Linked DNA regions of Homo sapiens. The protein of the gene in region 1 purifies or fractionates together with the protein of each later gene. This does not show direct contact. Each region holds a gene or a part of one and is shown on either strand. Other genes may lie near its edges.

The links.
Region 2: the proteins of KIF20A (region 1) and MYO1F purify together in Homo sapiens (affinity purification with mass spectrometry; 2 studies listed by BioGRID and IntAct, with this or other methods). This does not show direct contact.
Region 3: the proteins of KIF20A (region 1) and PHGDH purify together in Homo sapiens (affinity purification with mass spectrometry; 2 studies listed by BioGRID and IntAct, with this or other methods). This does not show direct contact.

Annotation. Positions count from the first base shown.
Region 1 is NC_000005.10:138,182,112-138,185,167, reverse strand, and holds part of KIF20A (kinesin-like protein KIF20A), read right to left. Parts: intron 2,846-3,056; coding exon 2,707-2,845; intron 2,583-2,706; coding exon 2,395-2,582; intron 2,308-2,394; coding exon 2,178-2,307; intron 2,000-2,177; coding exon 1,805-1,999; intron 1,699-1,804; coding exon 1,587-1,698; intron 1,481-1,586; coding exon 1,412-1,480; intron 1,207-1,411; coding exon 1,063-1,206; intron 930-1,062; coding exon 764-929; intron 657-763; coding exon 492-656; intron 362-491; coding exon 222-361; intron 74-221; coding exon 1-73. UniProt on the Homo sapiens protein: Mitotic kinesin required for chromosome passenger complex (CPC)-mediated cytokinesis. Following phosphorylation by PLK1, involved in recruitment of PLK1 to the central spindle. Interacts with guanosine triphosphate (GTP)-bound forms of RAB6A and RAB6B.
Region 2 is NC_000019.10:8,574,643-8,578,744, forward strand, and holds the start of MYO1F (unconventional myosin-If), read right to left. Parts: upstream 2,801-4,102; 5' UTR 2,668-2,800; coding exon 2,665-2,667; intron 1-2,664. UniProt on the Homo sapiens protein: Myosins are actin-based motor molecules with ATPase activity. Unconventional myosins serve in intracellular movements. Their highly divergent tails are presumed to bind to membranous compartments, which would be moved relative to actin filaments.
Region 3 is NC_000001.11:119,721,934-119,725,433, forward strand, and holds part of PHGDH (D-3-phosphoglycerate dehydrogenase), read left to right. Parts: intron 1-1,442; coding exon 1,443-1,508; intron 1,509-2,385; coding exon of another isoform or gene 2,386-2,516; exon of another isoform or gene 2,517-2,536; intron 2,537-2,851; coding exon of another isoform or gene 2,852-2,942; intron 2,943-3,500. UniProt on the Homo sapiens protein: Catalyzes the reversible oxidation of 3-phospho-D-glycerate to 3-phosphonooxypyruvate, the first step of the phosphorylated L-serine biosynthesis pathway.

The sequences.
Region 1 (3,056 bases):
TGACTCCTTGAGGATATTTAGTTTTTCTTCATACATTTCCTCCAATAGTTCCTTTTGGGTGTCCAAATGTTCACTGTCAGAAACAGAGGAGAAAAGAGAGGTAAGTGAAGGTTCTGAGGAGTGAACTTGGGGAACAGATCTTGAGGCACAACTCCACCTAACTCCTTACTTCCCACCCTCTGTCTCAGGTGACAGAGCAAGAGGGGTCACTCAGCTAGTACCTGCACCACTGTTCCCGCTGTTGCATCTGTTCTACCATCTCATTGCAAATTTCATCTCGGAGATGCATCTCCAGCTGTAGCTTTTCCTGTCGTTCCTTCAAAAGCAGTGTCTTCATGGCTTCCACAACTTGTAGGAGCTCCTAGGAGAGACACACATGTCAGAGGTCATCAGATGCTCATGCCCTCAGAAGGCACAAGCCCACCTGGAAGGCACCATGGAAAAATGTGTAGCTACTAAGCTGCTACACTAAAGCTTTCTTGTATTCTCACCTCTTTGCCATACATGGAGATGTCAGCTTCATTTTCAATATCATCATCAAGGCCTGTGTCTGCCTTAGCCCCTTTCTCTAAGCTGGGGGATACCTGAAGACTATGTTCCTTGATGAACGAGTGCAGGGATGGGAATCCCAGTTGCATAGGTGGGGCATGCACAAGCTAGAGGGAAAAAAAATATCTTACTTGACTCCATAAGTAGTCCCTAGGAGCTTTCTTAGAGTTACCAGTTCCAAGTGCGCACACCCATCACACCTCTAGCTTCTCACCTGGCTAGCAATGGCTGAGAACTTGGCCACATGAAGAGTTTCATCATAGGTAGATGCACAGGGATTCACATTGACAATCATGCAGGAACGGCCTCGGCCTGTGAAGAAACCTTGGAACACTCGAGTCAACTTGCTGTCACGGAAGGGAACCAGGTTCTGCTTTGACCTGGCAGAGAATCAGAGATAATAGAGCTGTGAGCAGAACACCAGCCCTTTGGGTATCCTAGCACCATCCCCAGTGGTGTCCAGGAAGTCTCTTAGCAAATTGCAGAGCCCAGGAATTATAGTCAAAAGCTCACCGGTTCTGCTGGTTTTGACGAAGGGCAGCAATACAGCGGCCCAGGGTGTGTAGAGAGGTGTTAATGTTTCCTGCTTCCTTCAACCGTTCACCACTCTTCTGATCTTTGCAGCGCTCTGAGCCAGCCAGATCACAGAGTGACAGCCTAGAATGATGCACAGGATCTGACATAAGGGCCTCACATGTTATGAGCCTTCTGGCCCTTTGTATAATTCTGGAGAGGGGACGGCCCACTAAGAATCTCTGTACCCAAAGAAGGAGAACACATAGTTCCCCTGAGGACCTCCTCCATGCTTTCCCAACTATCATTTATGGCCAAGAAGCCCAAATTTCTAAATGGATAAACTTACTCGCTGATCTTGGGGACTATATCTCCTTCCCCCTGAAGGTGTAGGATCCTGATTGAGAAGATGCTGTGACTGGAAGTTAAGAAAAACAAAAAGTCATTGCACATTTTCCATGACCAGGCAGAGGACTAATGTTTCCTGGAACACAGTGAAGAGTTTATTCTTACAATCTACTCACCTGCGGCTGGAGTTCTGGTTGAGGTGGGTGCTGGCAAAGCTCTGGTTCTTACGACCCACTTTTAGGAGCTTCCAGGCCTCCTCAGCATCTTGCACATGAATCCAGTTGAGATCTGGGGCCAAAGGAGAGGGGTGTAAGATGGGAACATCCAACTCTTTTGCCAGTCTCTCCCCAGTTGCCCTCCAGGGTTCATGCCAGCTTTCCCCATGTTCCTTTACCTTTCACATAGGGATTGCCATTTTGATCCTCGCATAGCCGCAAAGTCTGCCTCTTGCGCTGTTGGCTAGGCGGTTCTAATAGGTCATAAAGCAGTTCGTTGTAGATCTCAAAGAATGAGATCCAGATGGAGAAGCGAATGTTTGCCGGGACAGGTAGTGGGGCAGTGTCTGGCTGTGCCCATCGATGACTTGTTTCTGGAGAAGAAGCCAATGTATAGGGCATCAACCTAGAGCAGTTCACCTCTCTTTTGGCCTGCAGGGGCCTTGGAAGGCAGACCTTAGATTGCAACCTCTGGTCTGTACTCCTGGCAGCTATTAGGAACAGGGAGTGAGTTCCTACTATTTTTTGGCAGAGCCCAGTCACGGTACATACCATCCAGCTGGCTACTGCTGGTACACTGACTGATAGAAGAGAGCCCAGCAATGCCACTGTCGAAGCTGGTGCTGGTACCTATCCGACTTTCGATGTAGACACTCCTCTTCAAGGAAGTGGACAGCTCCTCCTGGAGGGGCACAGGGAGAAGGTAAGCACAAAACTTCCCCGAGATTTGTACCCCCTACCCCCACTGCCATGGATACCAATGCTTTACCTCTTGGAGGCCTCCATTTAGCAGGGACAGCTTCTTCATTTCCTCCTGTCGGATCTGCTTGCTGTCTAGCCAGATTACCTCATTGGAGAGCAAGGGCTTCAGATCAGGTGTTGGATGAAGTTGGCCTTGGAGGCTATTGAAGATCAGCGCCAGGGACCGGGGGAGAATCCCTCCATCCTTGATGGTACCTGGAGGCATATGAAAGATGGACAGCTGAGGCAAGTGCCCTTCTCCCCCTAACTCAGAGTCTCAAAAGGTAAAAACAACACCATTACCAGCCAATCAGGAATCCCGTGAAGGCTTACTACTCACCTTGAATCGTGTGGGTTTTCCCTGAGTTAGTGACTCCATATGTATAGATGAGCCAGTTCTGCCCTTTGAGTACATCCTTTACCATCTCCTTCACAGTTAGGTTGAAGAAGGATGCCTGTCCCACTTCTGGCCCAAAGATCTAGAGAGAGACCCAGTTTTTTAGAGGCCTCTCCTTCATCTCCCACTTGCCTCCTGTGCAGAGCCAGCAGATATATTCCTTCCTGAGTGGTTGGCTCTGGAGACCACTCAAGCAGCTTCTTCCTGCAATGCTGCTGGCTGTTCCCTAAACACTGAGGACTCAAGCACTCTCTGCTAGTCCATCTTTCCACCAAATCAACAAACACTTAAGG
Region 2 (4,102 bases), on another chromosome or scaffold:
TTCCTTTCTTTCTCTTTCTTCTTTCTCTCTTTCTTTCTTTCTTCCTTTCTCTTTCTCTCTTTCTTTCTTTTTCTTTCTCTTTCTTTCTTTCTTTTTCTTTCTTTCTTTCTCTCTCTCTTTCTTTTTTTTTTGAGATGGAGCCTCTCTCTGTGGCCCAGGCTGGAGTGCAGTGGCGTGATCTCGTCTCATTGCGACCTCTGCCTCCTGGGTTCAAGTGATTCTCCTATCTCAGGTTCCCGGGTAGCTGGGGTTACAGGCGCGCACCACCACGACTGGCTAATTTTTGTATTTTTAGTAGAGACAGGGTTTTGCCATGTTGGCCAGGCTGGTCTTGAACTCTTGACCTCAGGTGATCCGCCCACCTCGGCCTCCAAAAGTGTTGAGATTACAGGCATGAGCCACTGCACCCTGCCAACGGCATTAGATTTTCTTTTTCTTTTTTTTTTTTTTTTGAGACGGAGTCTGGCTCTGTCGCCGAGGCTGTAGTGCAATGGTGTGATCTTGGCTCACTGCAACCTCCGCCTCCCGGGTTCAAGCGATTCTCCTGCCTCAGCCTCCCGAGTAGCTAGGATGACAGGCATGTGCCACCACACCCAGCTCATTTTTGTATTTTTAGGAGAGACGGGGTCTCACCACGTTGGCCAGGATCGTTTCTATCTCTTGACTTCGTGATCTGCCCGCCTCGGCCTCCCAAAGTGCTAGGATTACAGGTGTGAGCCACCGCACCCGGCCGGGCATTAGATTGTCATAAGCAGCATGCAACCTGGATCCCTCGTGTGTGCAGTTCACAACAGGGTTTGCGATCCTGTGATAATCTAATGGCGCCCCCGAGAATCTGAGAGGAGGTGGAGCTCGGGCTTGCTTGCCTGCCACTCATCTCCTGCTCTGTGACCCGATAGGGCTCATGGTTTCTAACAGACAGACCATGGCCCGATAGCAGTCCATGACCCCGGGGGTTGGGGACCCTGTTGTAAAGGACTTCAGAAATACTGTTTCATTGAATCCTTCAGCGATCTTCCTGGCATTCACCACTCCTCCAGGAAGATTTCAGCATCCCCAGACAGAGGTGGGTGTCATTTTTTTCTCTTCTATCATCCTCTGCGATACGGGTGGCCCCTCCCAGACCTTGTCTGCCAAGCCGACTGTTGACTAAGCATTTTCAGAGGGCTTCCTTGGGGAGGGGTTGCCTTTCTTTCAAGTAGCAAATCACTTCCTGTGTTCTTTTGATCAAAGCCCTGCCCATCCCAGGACCTGAGCCTCCCTGGCTTGCTTCTCATCTTGGAAGAATTCCCACCCCAACAGTCTCAGAGCTCCAGCTGATGGTTTGGGTGTGAATTCCGGGATGCCCAATTTCTCATCAGCTTTCCTTTTTTGAGACGGAGTGTGCTCTGTCACCCAGGCTGGAGTGCAGCGGCAGGATCTCAGCTCACTGCACCCTCCGCCTCCTGGGTTCAAGTTATTCTCTTGCCTCAGCCTCATATGTAGCTGGGATTACAGGCGTGTGCCACCACGCCCAGTTAATTTTTTGTATTTTTTAGTAGAGACGAGGTTTCACCACGTTGGCCAGGCTGGTCTCGAACACCTGACCTCAAGTGATCTACCTGTCTCAGCCTCCTAAAATGCTGGGATTACAGGCATGAGCCACTGTCCCTGGCCCTCACTGGCTTCCTGAAAGAAGGTGTTGTCTCTCAGACTAACACCACCTCTGCCTCTTGCCCTATGTCCCTGACTCCACCCTAGTAAGCTGTACCTGCCAAGAATCCTGCAGTGGCCGCTGTCACAGCCACATGCTCTCATCCTCACTGACTGAATGACGAGAAATGAAAGCTGAAGTGGTCTACACAGCAGAGAGCTGTGGGGTGGGGTCAGCCCTGGCCACCTCTTACTTTGCGTCTTATGGTGGTACGATACTGCTAGGAATAGCGCCATGATCACGACAGTCTCCCCGTTGCTATCATCGACAGACCTCAGACTTGACAGGCAGCAACACCTCTGGCTGCCATCCTCCTCTTGGGATAAGGGATGCCCACCAAAGGGTGGCATGGACGTATTCAGCCTCTCCTGCCTCTGCTGCAGCCATACCGCCCGTCACCGGCACAGGGAGGGCGTCAATCCACCCCATCGCTTGTTAGACATAGCTTCCCATCTCAGCCGAGGACTCTGTGGCAGAACCCACAGACCTTGAGAATGTTGCAACTGAAAGACCCCTGAAGAGCAACTTCCGCATCTAGACGGATTTCCAAATATGACATCTGTGGGAACCGGGGCCAAGAGAGGGGAAGTGACTAGCCCAAGGCTACACAGGGAGACGAGAGACTGGGCTGGACTGGGAAAGGGCTCCCTTAATTTGCAAGCAAAGGAGGCTATGTCCTTGTCCCTGCAGACTCTGTGATTCTCCCTGGGCCACCTTCTGTCTTCCAGGTCCTGCCCTATCCTTGGATCCAGGGATACCACCCTGGCATCCCCACCACCTACAGATGGGAGCTTGCTCCCTGGTAAGGGATGCTGGAGGCACCTGAGCTGCACTGAGAGACACCCCACCCCCACAGAAGTCCACCATGCCCCTCCCCTCACCCCAATTTCTGATGGTCATTTTTAGGACACCTCCACCTGGCTGGTGTCCCTCCTCTTTCTTCTTCCAGATCCCACCCTTGAAGGACTTACCATGGTGGGGGGCTGGTGTCTGGGCTCCTGGAGGCTCCTGAATGGGTCGTGATGGAGGTGCAGGTTCAGGGGGATCTTGGGGGTGGCTTGGGCATGGCCCTGCTTCTGCCCGTTCACCGGACTCCCGGCTTTAGTTCCTCTTACAACAGCCCCTTCTCACTTCCTTTGGCGGGAGGGGCCGAGGCCATGGGGGAGGGAAGCTGGGTGTGGAGGGGGGCGGGGAGCTGGCTGTTTGGGGCTCTGAGCCTGAAGGGAGGGGTCAGAACTTGATGGCAGCCACTACTGGACCTCAGAGGCCTCTTCCCCAACTCCTTGGGGACAGGGCTGCTGCAGGAACATTTGGGTCAGCTGGCTGCAGGACGAACCACCTCTTTTCAGGGCGATTCAGGAAGCATTTGGGCTTCCCGGGTCTCTTTTTAAAACCAAGGAAGGGGCCCAGGGGAGGTGGCTCACGCCTGTAATCCCAATACTTTGGGGGGCCAAGGTTGGAGGATCGCTTGAGTCCAGGAGTTTGAGACCAGCCTGGGCTATATAGCATGACCCCATCTCTACAAAAAATGAAAAGAAAAAAAATTAGCTGGGCATGGTGGCATGAGCCTGCAGTCCCAGCTACTCAGAGGGCTGAGGTGGGAGGATTGCTTGAACCTGGGAGGTGGAGGCCTCAGTGAGCCCTGATTGCGCCACTGCACTCCAGCCTGGGCGAAAGAGTGAGACCCTGTCTCTAAAAACAAACCAGAAAAAACAAAAAAACCAAAAAAACAACAACAACAGGGAAGGGTGCCTTCTTCAGCTGTGTCTGCTCTGGGCATCCCTGGGCAACCTCCTTCATTATTATTATTGTTATTATTTTGAGACGGAGTCTAGCTCTGTCACCCAGGCTAGAATGCAGTGGTGCAATCTCAGCTTACTTTAATCTCCGCCTCCTGGGTTCAAGCGATTCTCCTGCCTCAGCCTCCTGAGTAGCTGGGATTACAGGTGCCCACCGCCACACCTGGCTAATATTTGTATTTTTAGTAGAGACGGAATTTCGCCATGTTGGCCAGGCCGGCCTTGAACTCCTGACCTCAGGTGATCCTCCCAACTCGGCCTCCCAAAGTGCTGGGATTACAGGCATAAGCCACCACGCCTGGCCCAACCTCCCTCTTTAGATGACCCTCAGAAGTCACACGTGTTTGTGTGCAGAAGTGGAGGGTACTGGGAAGCAGGTGCATCTGAAAGGTCCCTGACTTTGGATGTCACATCTAGATTTAACAGCCTCCAGTTTGGCTACTTCCTGGATGACTTAGTTACTCCCTTTTCTCATTGTAAAATGGGAACGTGGGTCCCCCCAGCAGAGCCTGGCCCAGGTACGTGTCAGCCTATGAGCTGGTCTTTGGGACACCAGCCAACCACCTGAGGCTCCTCTTGACATGTGAGGAAATGGCAGTTCTAATAGGTT
Region 3 (3,500 bases), on another chromosome or scaffold:
AGTGCTGTACTGTACCCGTTCTGTCACTTAGATGGTATGGCAAGGCCATCCCCAGGCCTCTTTGTTCTTAAGACTTTTCTCTTCCCTTGGGGACTTCATTGTCCTTAAGACCTTTCCCCTCCCCTGCACTGCACTTCCCCCTGTAGGGTAGAGGTTAATTGGTCACCTGACTGAAGTCAATATTCAACAGCAGAAATGTTAAACGATAACCCATCCCACATTCTTGCCTTGGACCCAGAGGCAGCCAGGCCCCAATCTCTGCACCTCTACTTGCGCCCCCATACAGCCTGTTTGCTGTGGGAGGATGAGAAGCCAGGTGGTTTTGCAGGCAGACAGACTCTGAGAGTCCGTTTATCTTATACAGGATCTCTTGACTTTTTCTTCTTGTAACCTTATTAACCTTCATTCCAGAGATGAAAAAGACAGACCCAGTAGGGGAATAATCAGGGTGAACACGTATATGAAATTCTTTCAAAAACCTAAAAAGCATTTAAGAAAAGAAAAATAGTTTTGTGGGTTGCCACCTCTATTTTTTTGTTTATAAAATGGGAAGGGTCTGGATTGCCCTGTGACTTAGGGTGTGAGGAGGCTTTCTCAGTTCAGAACTTGTTGAGAGATAGGAAGAGTAGTCAGACAGGTGGAGATTACTAATAAAAGCTAGGTTGGGGCTGCGTGTGGGGGCTCACACCTGTAATCCCAGCACTTTGGAAGGCCAAGGTGGGAGGATCACTTGGGCCCAGGAGTTTGAGACCAGCCTGGGCAACAAAGTGAGACCCCCATCTCTACAAAAATACAAAAAAAAAAAAAGAAGGAAAGAAAAGCCAGGTATGTTGGCACCAGCCTGTAGTCTCAGCTACTGAGAAGGTTGAGCTGGAAGGATTGCTTGAACCCTGGGAAGTCAAGGCTGCAGTGAGCTGTGATCATGCCAGTACACTCCAGCCTGGGTGACAGAGCGAGGCCTTGTCAAAAAAAAAAAAAAAAAGCCAGGTTGGGTAACTTGATGAAGATATGTAGGCATTGGACTGAGCCCTGAATTCGAGAGACTCTGACCTTGGTAAGATCAATGGTAGGAGCAGCAGGGAATTTGTGCTTTCTGGAGGCAGGTAGATCCTGAAATAGGAGAAAGAAAAGGGCTGAACCACACACAAATCTGATCATGTGAGACACTTCTCTGCCTTGGGAGGAGTGTTTGGATAGAGAGAAGCCAGATATGTTTCTCTAATGGAGGTCCCTCTGCAGGGAAACATAAAGCCAGGGGAAGGGGGTTTCTTTCCAGCCCTTGGCTTAGGGCGAGAGTACATCAGAGAACTCTGGACAGTGGCGTGGTCAGTTCATGGAGCAGGAGTGAGAGAACACAGCCTGCACTCAAGGCTTTCTCTTGGGGAAGGAGTGGGAATACTGGGTCTGTGCCCATTGATGTCCCCCTTTTCTTTGATCTTTAGCACCCCCAATGGGAACAGCCTCAGTGCCGCAGAACTCACTTGTGGAATGATCATGTGCCTGGCCAGGTAAGTCCCTGACTTCTCAGCAAAGCTAGTCTCTCCGATATGCCAATTATTACCACTTGCCAAGCAAATGGACCCAGAAAAACTTAGAAACATTTCGTCTCAGCGACTTGCAGACTGCTAAGAAGGCGACATGCAGACTGCAAAGAACCTTTAAGGCCATCAGGTCCTCTATTCAACATTCATTACACAGGTTCCCTAGTGCACAAAGGTGCACTTCTCTTTACTCATGTTCTATTCTCCATGCTGCAGACAATCTGCCTTCTCTAGCCTCCAACTCTTGCAAATGTTCTCCATACCCTGCTGCCTGGAGATAACAAGGAAGGATGTTCCAGGCAGCAGGGTATGGACAGTGTCTAGGTACCCTCTGCTTACTTTTCAAGATTAAGCTTCAGTATTAATTTATCCAAGAAGCTCTCTGGCTTTTCCAGCTAGGCTATGTCCCTCACTGATTCCCCTGGCCCTCAGGGCTTATCTCTGTCACTGCCCTTACAAATCTGTATTGTAATAGAATGGAGTAAGAACCTGCTTCAGGGTCCTTGTGTGTTCTGTGGGTTCATAACACAATGGAACTCAAATGGGCAAGACTCTTGCTCTTCTAGCAGGAGTTCCAGGCCTCTTGAGTGGATGGGGCAGCCTAGAAATCAAATGGTTGTGGCACAGAATGTGCTTGAGTCTCAGTGTGTTGGTTAGTAATTTGGCAAAACTGATTGCATGGAGCACTTCTGTTGAACAGGCAATTCAAGCATTTATGTGGTCAAGGGGAAGAACAAGGCTCCCAATAAACAGGGTAGGAAGTTGTTCTAGGTCCCTTTGAAGCTCCATGGATTCCCTAAACCAGCGGACCTAGGCATCAAGGACTCCTTGTTTCTCTACTCAGGCCTGAAACCTTCCGGGACCAAGAAATTACTTTTCCCATGGCGAGACCTGCTTTCCCTCCTGCTGGAGGAGGATCTGGGGGAATTTACCTCTGCTCTAACTCCTCCCTGCAGTTTCCATCTGAGCTCTCTGGTATTCACTGATATTCACTGGTAGGTGAAAGGAGGCAGTGGGGGGAAAGGAGAAACAGGGATAGCTTACACAGCAGTAGGGTCTCAGCCTAGAAGGGGCCCCCAGGCTGGCAGCCGGGTTCTCCCAGAACATCTAGGCTGAGTGTCTCTCCCCCTGGAGAAGTACAGAAGCCTGGCACCCTGGTTTCACTTCAGCTATTACCTTCAGGGATTTTTTTTTTTTTTTTTGAGTAAGGGAAAAGATCTCAATGTGGCTTTCTGATTAATTACCTCACTTTTTTTCTGGAGGTGGAAGGAAAGGATTGGGAGCCAGCAATACTTTCCCTCCTTTTCCAGGACCAGCTTTGTTTAAAGGAATCGGTGAAATGCTGTGGTTTAAAAGAAGCTCCCCATTGTCAACTGCTCACCATGACCTCACTCATCAAAGGTGCATCAAAACTAGGAAACACGCACACCCTATTGGGAAGGAATGCGTTCGTTTCATCAGACTGTTCCTAGCAGGGAGGACGGTAGGAGAGTGTGGGTGCCTATATGTAGACTCTACAGGATTGGGCAATGTGGGTGGAGAGCAGGCGTGGCTGGGCCTCACAGTAGGGACTTTGAGCAGATGGCGGGGGCTCCTGAGGTGCAGAAGAACAGCACACAGAAAGGAAGGAAGGAGAGAATCAACAAATGTAGGTTTCACCATTTTTGCCTGCTTTACCATCTCCTCCTCTAGTAAGTCAGGCCAGCAACCATTTAATTATTGTGAGGACCCTCGCCCACATTAGAGTCCTCTCCAGTCTGGCCTGATGAGGATTCCAAAGCATTGAAACCTGGAGAGGCTCCATGATCAGCTGGGAGCAGCAGCCAGAGAAAAGGGTTAGGGATTTCTTGTGTTCTGTGGTGCCGCACGCATACATCTTAGATAGCACTGTGGAGTCTGGTGGGAAGAAAATAGGATGTGAGGGAGAGGAGAGAGGGGCCAGGTGGGGCTCTGTCTCAC